Regions from separate parts of the Homo sapiens genome. Here all the other regions are reported to be linked to region 2. Evidence: microRNA targets listed by miRTarBase, many of them from high-throughput screens and not tested one by one. Region 2 holds a microRNA gene; each other region holds the end of a gene's coding sequence.

The links. Region 2 holds the annotated microRNA hsa-miR-664b-5p (UGGGCUAAGGGAGAUGAUUGGGUA, at 2,201-2,224, opposite strand). A microRNA usually pairs through its seed, bases 2 to 8, with sites in the 3' UTR of a target mRNA and lowers its output. Matches are read on the target gene's strand: a 7mer-m8 pairs with bases 2 to 8, a 7mer-A1 pairs with bases 2 to 7 and ends in A, and an 8mer does both.
Region 1: miRTarBase lists NXPH2 as a target of hsa-miR-664b-5p. Seed matches in the 3' UTR shown: 7mer-m8 at 2,198-2,204.
Region 3: miRTarBase lists PARP15 as a target of hsa-miR-664b-5p. Seed matches in the 3' UTR shown: 7mer-m8 at 3,157-3,163.

Annotation. Positions count from the first base shown.
Region 1 is chr2:138,668,093-138,671,351 of GRCh38, forward strand. NXPH2 (neurexophilin 2) reads right to left here. Exons shown (of 2, transcript NM_007226.3): 2 at 1,065-3,259. The coding sequence ends at 2,830. Among named protein-coding and RNA genes, the nearest start is that of LINC02631, 68 kb to the left of the region's middle. RefSeq lists an enhancer at 2,543-3,259.
Region 2 is chrX:154,767,561-154,770,819 of GRCh38, reverse strand. It overlaps MIR664B (microRNA 664b), which reads right to left and starts at 2,224; the gene lies at 2,164-2,224. DKC1 (dyskerin pseudouridine synthase 1) reads right to left here. Exons shown (of 15, transcript NM_001363.5): 8 at 2,388-2,518; 9 at 1,510-1,653; 10 at 1-61. It overlaps SNORA36A (small nucleolar RNA, H/ACA box 36A), which reads right to left and starts at 2,292; the gene lies at 2,161-2,292.
Region 3 is chr3:122,635,541-122,638,799 of GRCh38, forward strand. PARP15 (poly(ADP-ribose) polymerase family member 15) reads left to right here. Exons shown (of 12, transcript NM_001113523.3): 12 at 271-3,259. The coding sequence ends at 560. Among named protein-coding and RNA genes, the nearest start is that of PARP14, 44 kb to the right of the region's middle. RefSeq lists an enhancer at 1-752.

The DNA.
Region 1 (3,259 bases), not on the chromosome of region 2:
ATTTATCCTGACTTACTTTTCTGTAGTTGCAGTTTTTAAAAAATTTGTGATCATAGATAAATTATTATCCTAAATATTTTAGGGGGAGGTTATTTTCACCGTTTTCAGGTTCAGTTTTGGCTACTGGGTCCTGTCTTGTTATAAACTCATTGCAATTATTTTTGTTGTCTTGAATACCTGCTTCAATTTACCTTTCTTATGTAACGCAAGAGCTGGGACTAGGAGTCAGGAGAAATGCATTTCAGTTGGGTTTGCCATTTACTAGTGGGCACATCATTACCCTCATGGGGACTTGGGTTTTCCTGTCTGTCAAAAAAGAGGATTAAGAAGGTAGTGTAGGCTGCACTCTCTTTGAAATATTACTCTTCTATATGTTAATATGTCTATACGTTTAAAAGTTCTGTTGCTTTAGTTTTTAAACAGTTTGTGACTGAGTGCAAAATTAGCTTCCATGAATATCCTTTTCCTCAATAGCAGTACTAAAGGGCAAAAAATAGTTTTGTAGAAATGTGTGTATTTGCATGCTTAAGTGGGCTCTGATTTATATTGTGCCAAGTACCATTACTGACAATTAGGTATGCTTTGAAATGAAATTATGACTTAGAAATATATGTGGCATATATTCTACTCCAACTTACAAACGAGCTTATGGGAAACTTTTAAAAAATTCCACAAACGCTGCTAACATCTAAGAACTGTATAAATCAATTTACAGTTTTTTTTTTGTTTTTTTTTTTTGCATAGAAATAATGTTCACATCTCTCAACTTTGGAACATCAGATAGTTTTAAACCTCATTACTTCACGTCAAAACAATAATAATCATAATGGCAGCTCACAAGTAGAGTTCTTTCTTACTAGATGCCATGCTATGTACAAAATGTTTTATGTGAGTTATTCTTTTGCCCTACTTTAAAATCTCCACAGCCAAGATGCCTATTTAACATGTATCTAAGGGAAACCTTCTTGTTCAATTGGTATCACACACACACACATGCACAGAATAAGCCCTTGTGAGGAAAAGAAACAAGGAGAACAGAGTCTTTAAAAAATAACCACCCAGGATTAATGTGACAGATCTAGCAAATTCTTTTTATTTACATAAAATGTGTACACATACTTTCTCTGTACACAGAAAATTCTAAGTATATATATATAGATATATGATTCCCACATATTTTACAATAAATAATATTTTACTCTTGTTTCTAGGTGAAAATAAAAAGATGTTTCAAAATATTAATCACCAACCACAAAATTACAAAAACATGTGGTGAACTCAGAGCAAGAACTTCAAGCCTGTACTACCACACACTAAGCTTAGTACAATTTTTACAAAAGACAAAAATTGAACACTGCAGATATTACCGGTAAAAGGAAAGAAATGAAGATAGAGAACAGAGCTCTTGGTTTTTTGAACAGTGTGGTAAGAGTATTTCTTGTTGTTTAGGACTTCTCTTCCTTTAGTCCTCAATTTAATGTTTTACTTTAATTAATATTTTACAGATAAGAAGGGAGAAAGAAGTTAACATCTATTGTAAAAGGAGTGACCATTCCATGAGCGTCCTGAGTTCTAGAAGCCTTTTTCTTGGCCAACCAGACCCCTGTTTCTGTTCTAATTTAATGATCATTCAGTTCTACCATATAGGACTGCTATTCACCCCCACAGGGAAGATGAGAAGGGCACTGACTGTGAAGTGACATTAATTTGAAAGTCATTTCAAAAGTCTGGTAAGCCAGGTATCTTGGTTGTCAGCACTTAATAATTAGAAATGTTTAAATATAACTCTCTATTTCCACATAGAGTTTGATCTCTTATTCAAATATTAACTAAATGCAAGGGGAACTTAATCTGGGAGGCTAGAAATAATGAATCCATAATCCTGAAATTTCCTCCCTCTACTTCCCACTTTTGTTTTCTATTCTAGTCTAGGAAACAAGCACTTTCACTCAACTTCAGAGCTGTTCTACACATGTGTAAAGAATCACACTATCGAATGAATTGAATAAAGCTCTAAGCTATAGGATGCATACAAATTTTGTCATTTTTTGATTAATTCCACAGCATTTGAATTTATCAGAAGAGTCTAAAAACATCATGATTTTTGTTATCGTTCAACAAACTTATTCTCAGATTTGCTTTCCCATTACATCAGTATTCAAACTCAGGGGGAATCATAAGAATGGTGACCAACACAGGGCTAAGTGCTCAAATCACATTCCACGCAACTGTAGCTCAGATGATAAGGAACTTGGTTCCACTGTGGCACTGTAACTTCACACATGAATTTTGAAACAAATTTTACCTTTTTTTCTCTCATATCAATAACAGCACAGATGGATGGGGGAAAAGATAGAAATATAAAAAAAAGGGTCCAATGTCAAAAACACAATTCATCTATCAAATACAATCTTTTCCTTTACCGCATCTGCTGTTTCTGCGGTAACCTTCCAAAACATATTTCAAAGGCAGGCTCATTTCAAGAGCAATGTTTGTCACATGCATAATTTTGTTCCTTCTTGTCACATATTGCTATCATTGATGTTTCTTTCAGAGAAACAATAAGATTTCTAGAACTTAGTCATCTTGCATGAAAGTGATGGTTTCATAAACAGTTTAACTTTTTAGATAAAGGTACCTACGATAGAAAGAAACAAATTTCACACTTAAAGATGTCTCTTTTTCTTTTTTTAAATTTGAAAACCTGATAGGGAACTATTGTTCACTGCCAGAAACAAAAGGGATCCTTTATCATAAAGAGCTGGGCTTGTTTCTTTGTCATTCTAATCAAATACATATGTATCCCTCATTTCCACCACAGCAGGAAGATCAGCCAGAAGATAAGTATGGGGTCTCACTATGGTAATTGTAGTCAGGGCACACCTTTTGCACGAGTTTATAATCAACACTGTAAAAGGCAATGTAAATGCAAATGACCTTGAAGGGCTTGGAGCACAACCAAGACACATGGCTCTGAGTCTGCTCCTGGTAGCAGATCTTGGATGGGTCAAAGTTGCACAGGGCGGTCTTTTTCGCCCGATCTGTTTTTTCATACTCAATGCGACAATTGAAAGATTTGGATTCCTTGGTCTCCAAGGTAGACTGGGGGGAAACTTCAAATTCCACCACCTTGGAGGGTGGTACCAAGCTCACTGAAACATTGCCCAGGCCTGTTGAATTATGTCGGAAATACACACTGAAGGTTCCATTTCCATGGTCAACAATTTTCCCTGTGATGAGGAGATTGAGTTTGACAGTT
Region 2 (3,259 bases):
CGTCCTCATATCGAAGAACACCTGGAAGCATAATCTTGGCCCCATAGCAGATGGCATTTACCTGCAGAGATGGCACCAAGTGTAAGGGGCCCAGCTGCTGCCCTCCACCCCACTCCCACACCAGAGTAAAGGAGGACAACAAGGGAGTGGGGCCTGACACCAGGAAACAGGGATGACACTTATAGCCCACTAGCTGCAAGGGGCATGAGTGGTACTCAGAAGAGCCACCTCACTGTGCTATAGGTACCACTCTCCGCACATTACACACGACTCAAAAGTAGTAAAGAAGACTTTCAGGTTTTCAGGTTCTAGAGACTCACAAGTATTTTCTTTTTTTTTTTTTTTTTTTTTTAATTTTCAGGCAGAACCTCCCTCTGTTGTCCAGGGTGGAGTGCAGTGGCACATTCTCGGCTCACTGCAACCTCCATCTCCCAAGTTCAAGTGATTCTCAGCCTCCCAAGGAGCTGGGATTACAGGCACGTGCCACCACGCCCAGCTAATTTTTGTATTTTTAATAGAGACAGGGTTTCACCATATTGCCCAGGCTGGTCTCAAACTCCTGAGCTCAAGCAATTTGCCTGGCCCGGCCTCCCAAAGTGCTGGGATTATGGGTGTGAGCCACCGCACGTGGTCCATATTTTCATTTGAAACATAAAAATAGCCTTGGCATTCCTTAATTACTCCTCTCTCCTCCTTATGAGGAGAAAGAACAGATTTACTGGAGATCCAGGCAATAACAGGCTCTTAAAGAACTTGAAAACAAGATTACTGAGCCCTGTTGAACCAATCACACAAAAGTCTTGGTGCAGAATTTATAGGTCAGTGGGTACAAGTTAAGGCTACCTCTCCAGAGGTTCAATGGTACCCAATGCACCCATCTGCCTCATACCATCTCCACTCACCTAGACCTCTTTTGATCACATTCTCCCCTCCCTTTACATTCACCCAGAAGCCAATGGTTTGATAAGGAGAGGACATCACATTTATGTTGTCCACTGTTTTGTGACTGAGTTTTTTCAACTATTATGGTGCCATCTTTCAGTATTTATTACAGCCTATACACATACAAAAAATGTGAACATCTATACAAGATTTGAATATAAATAATTACCAACTACAAACATTTTAAATATCCAGAAATTTTTATCCCTCAAGTTAGAGAAAAAGACAATGTTTTAATTTATAAAAGGCCAACTCTCTGATCATCATAAAAACACAGCTCACAGCCTTGATCTCCTGGGCTCAAGCTGGTCTCAAACTCCTTCCTGGACTCAAGTGATCCTCTTGCCTCAGCCTGCCAAAGTGCTAGGATTATAGGCATCAGCCACTGTGCCTGGCCTAATGTGCCTTATTTTTAAGTATGCCTACCATTAAACTTTTACTTTAAATTAATATACTTGGTTTGGACTTGAAAAAAATAAAATAAAACCCAAGGAAAACAATAAAAAGAGCAAGCCTCATCTTTGGAGTACGTTCTTTCCAAATATAAACTCCTAACCCGGAACTTACTGCACTGTCTTTCATAACCAGCCGTTTATGAGATGTCAACAGCTTTTCCAAAGGGTAAACAACTCGCCGCAGGTAACTCTCATCCTTGTGGTTATCATACAGCCACTGAGCATCAAGCACATCATGCATTGTCACCATGTGGTCCTGAAAAGCAGCCATGTATGAAAATAATTCAGTTTATTTGTATCTCAGCCCATCAGACCCCAAACTTCCTAAAACTGAATGTCACTTGTTTACTAGTCCAAGCTCATTATGTCTTCAGCCTCTTCAGTCCTGGCTCTTCCAGGCATCTTTTTTTTTTTTTTTTTTTTTTTTTTGAGACGGAGTCTCGCTCTGTCGCCCAGGTGGGACTGCGGACTGCAGTGGCGCAATCTCGGCTCACTGCAAGCTCCGCTTCCCGGGTTCACGCCATTCTCCTGCCTCAGCCTCCCGAGTAGCTGGGACTACAGGCGCCCGCCACCGCGCCCGGCTAATTTTTTTTGTATTTTTAGTAGAGACGGGGTTTCACCTTGTTAGCCAGGATGGTCTCGATCTCCTGACCTCATGATCCACCCGCCTCGGCCTCCCAAAGTGCTGGGATTACAGGCGTGAGCCACCGCGCCCTCTTCCAGGCATCTTTAACCGTTGAAGTATTAGACCCCAAGCAGGCATTTTTGTAGGCTGGGAGGCAAATGAATAGAATAATACTTTCTACCCAATCATCTCCCTTAGCCCATTTTAATGTCCCAAAGTTTAATTAACAGAACAGGGAAGCTGCCCTGGACTGAACTCAACACTTTGGAAAGCATCTTTCCCACGACATGAAGCAAGTGGAGTGCCATCAAAGGCTGGCAGATGGTAAGAACCAGCTCTAAAACTTCTAGCCCCGTAACACATACCTTTTCACTCATGACTCCAGAACGAACCCTCCGAAGCTCCTGCATCTGACCACCAACTCCCAATAACAAACCAAGGTGCACACATAATGTCCGAATGTAGGTGCCAGCCTCACAACTCACCCAAAAGATTCCTAAGATACACACACACAAAAGAAAAGCAGCACCTACTGTAAATACATCACTGGTTGAGAAATGCAGTTATCCTTCATCTGAGCCACCAAGACTAGAGGTGACAGACACACTTCTTAAAATATAAGCATTTGCTGTAAAGATCTGTAATTCTGGCCAGGCACGGTGGCTCACGCCTGTAATTCCAGCACTTTGGGAGGCAGAGGCGGGTGGATCACGACGTCAGGAGATCAAGACCATCCTGGCTAACATGGTGAAACCCCGTCTCTACTAAATGTACAAAAAATTAGCCGGGCATGATGGCGGGCGCCTATAGTCCCAGCTACTTGGGAGGCTGAGGCAGGAAAATGGTGTGAACCCGGGAGACAGAGTTTGCAGTGAGCCGAGATCATGCCACCGCACTCCAGCCTGGGCGACAGAGCGAGACTCCGTCTCAAAAAAAAAAAAAAAAAAAAAAAAAGATCTGTAATTCTGATATTAGCAGAATTTTTAACACTTAAGTTGCAGGTATATTCAGCATGGTATGTTTCATGGATGGGAGGAAAATTGGCATTGTCTTAAATTTACTTCTGACAACAGAAACTTCTAAGCAGTCAAAATTGCAACAAATAAAAAACACATGCAAAACATACTTTGGTGAAAACACTTACCTTTGAACAAAGCACCGAACTACACAAATGCAGAATGAAAACATTTCAACTCCAGCAGAAGCAGTCATCATAAAAGGTGTAAAAGCCATCTCA
Region 3 (3,259 bases), not on the chromosome of region 2:
TGGGATTACAGGCATGCACCACTATGCCTGGCTAATAATTTTGTTTTATTTTTGTAGAGAAGGGGTCTCATAATGCTAGCCAGGCTGGTCTCGAACTCCTGGCCTTAAGCAATCCTCTTGCCTCAGCCTCCCAAAGTGTTGGGATTACAGGCATGAGCCAACACACCTGGCTAAAACTGCATTTAGAAAACAATTTTGTCAGATTGGGCATGGTTCTACACATTGTGTAATTTTATATTCTTAGGAAGGTTTTTGTCTTTCTCTTTCCAGCTGTATCCTATGGAAAAGGAACCTATTTTGCTGTGGATGCCAGTTATTCTGCCAAGGACACCTACTCCAAGCCAGACAGCAATGGGAGAAAGCACATGTACGTTGTGCGAGTACTTACTGGAGTCTTCACAAAGGGACGTGCAGGATTAGTCACCCCTCCACCCAAGAATCCTCACAATCCCACAGATCTCTTTGACTCAGTGACAAACAATACACGATCTCCAAAGCTATTTGTGGTATTCTTTGATAATCAGGCTTACCCAGAATATCTCATAACTTTCACGGCTTAAAAATATTTTTATCATCAAAGAGATGATTTAAGTCATCTGTAAGAACAACATGCAATCTTTGTCTTTGCTTCTGGCCTGTGTAAGCAGATGAAAGTTTCCCTTTTAGGTGCCAAAATGCTGAAAATTACCTTTTTAAAGTGCTCTATTGCTGCGATTTGTAGCATACCTTTTTTTCTCAGCAAATTGATGGGTGGAAGCTGAGAAATGTATGGTAAATGTCACAGAGCTACAACCATTCACAGACACCAAATCTCTAGGAGAATAAAAAGCACATTATTCTTTTTCTATCAGAAAAAAACAAGATGCATCACCTTAAAACCAAGATGACATTGTTCTTCTTGGAACATGTTAAGACATCGAATGGTGGCGGGTTAAACTGTACTGCTTAAGTGGAGCGGCTACCGTTATGCATCTATCACAGTTGGGGATTTTGCCTTATTAAGGAAAACTTGTCAATAGTTCAGCTGAAATGACTGAATCACAGAATATTAACTCTGTTATGGAACAAATCATAACAGATTTTACCTGTTTACATTTCAGGTAAAAATGTATCGCATTGTTATCTAATATTAAAAAATTACCCCCAATTTTAGTGACTTAATCCCACACAGTCTTTATGGGTCAGGAATTCAGGCATGGCTTACCTGGATCATTCTGCTAGGGTCTCTCTGAAGTTACAGACAAGATGTCAGGGGATGTGGTCGTTTGAAGGCTTGTCTGGGCTGGAGGTCTATTTCCAAGGTGAATCACTCACATACCTGGCACGTTTCTGTCAGGTATTGGCAGTCCTCAGTTCCTCTCCTCTCAGGCCTCTCCACAGGCTGCTTGAGTGTCCTCATGACACAACAGTTGGCTTACTCCAGAGTGAGCAACTCAAGAGAGAGCAAGGCAGAAGCTACCAAATCTTTATGTTTGAAGTCATGCACCATCTTTTCCACGAGTATCCTGTTGATTATTTTGATCAGCTTGTTCAGTCTGGGAGGGAATTGCACAAGGGCATGAATACTCCACTGGCAAGGATCATTGGGGGCCATCTTGGAAGCTGTGTGAATGAGCAAATGAATGCACAGATAGAATATTAGCAGTGACAATGATGCTAGAGGTCACCTACCCCACTGTCCTCTTGTCCTTCTCCCCCAACCCTCCCCTGCTCCCAGGCAAGAAGCCCTCTAGCCTCTGCTTGATCACTTTCAGCACTCAACATCTTCAGGGAACCTATTCCGCCGTGGGACAGTGTTAATTAGTGGAAAACTCTTTTTCAAAAGTTGAAATCAGTTCCTCTGTGTCTATTACCTGCTGATCACTGTCCAGACTTCTGGAGGACACAGAGCAAGTTTTATTCCTCTTACTGATGGTAGCCTTTCAGATCCATCCCTTCCCTCCAGTATATTAGAGTTACGTAAATTCTTAAAATGCTTAGCAGCTCATTTATCCTGAAGCATCACTTTTGAAGAGTTACAGACATTTAAGAAGTATTTACATTATCATAAATAAATTACATGCGCATTTAAAGAGAACAGAAAAGTATAAAGAAAAATAACTCACCAAACTCACTCATAATTCCAGCACTAAGGGAAAACCACTGCCAATTTCTCATGTCTCCCTTCCAGTTTCTTCTCTGTCCAAATTCAACAAAGTCAAAATCACATTTTGTTCTGTCACAAATCATATAATATTATTTCTACCATTTTTCTTTTTTTAATCTTTTTTTATTATACTTTAAGTTTTAGGGTACATGTGCACAATGTGCAGTTTAGTTACATATGTAAACATGTGCCATGTTGGTGTGCTGCACCCAGTAACTCATCATTTAGCATTAGGTATATCTCCAAATGCTATCCCTCTCCCCTCTCCCCACCCCACAACAGGCCCCGGTGTGTGATGTTCCCCTTCCTGTGTCCATGTGTTCTCATTGTTCAATTCCCACCTGTGAGTGAGAACATGTGGTGTTTGGTTTTTTGTCCTTGCGATAGTTTGCTGAGAATGATGGTTTCCAGCTTCATCCATGTCCCTACAAAGGACATGAACTCATCATTTTTTATGGCTGCATAGTATTCCATGGTGTATATGTGCCACATTTTCTTAATCCAGTCTATCATTGTTGGACATTTGGGTTGGTTCCAAGTCTTTGCTATTGTGAATAGTGCCGCAATAAACATACGTGTGCATGTGTCTTTACAGCAGCATGATTTATAATCCTTTGGGTATATACCCAGTAATGGGATTGCTGGGTCAAATGGTATTTCTAGTTCTAGATCCCCGAGGAATCGCCACACTGACTTCCACAATGGTTGAACTAGTTTACAGTCCCACCAACAGTGTAAAAGTGTTCCTATTTCTCCACATCCTCTCCAGCACCTGTTGCTTCCTAACTTTTTAATGATTGCCATTCTAACGGGTGTGGGATGGTATCTCATTGTTGTTTTGATTTGCATTTCTCTGATGGCCAGTGATGATGAGCATTTTTTCATGTGTTTTTTGGCTGCATAAATGTCTTCTTTTGAGAAGTGTCCGTTCATATCCTTTGCCCACTTTTTGATGGGGTTCTTTGTTTTTTTCTTGTATATTTGTTTGAGTTCATTGTAGATTCTGGATATTAGCCCTTTGTCAGATGAGTAGATTGCAAAAATTTTCTCCCATTCTGTAGGTTGCCTGTTCACTCTGATGGTAGTTTCTTTTGTTGTACAGAAGCTCTTTAG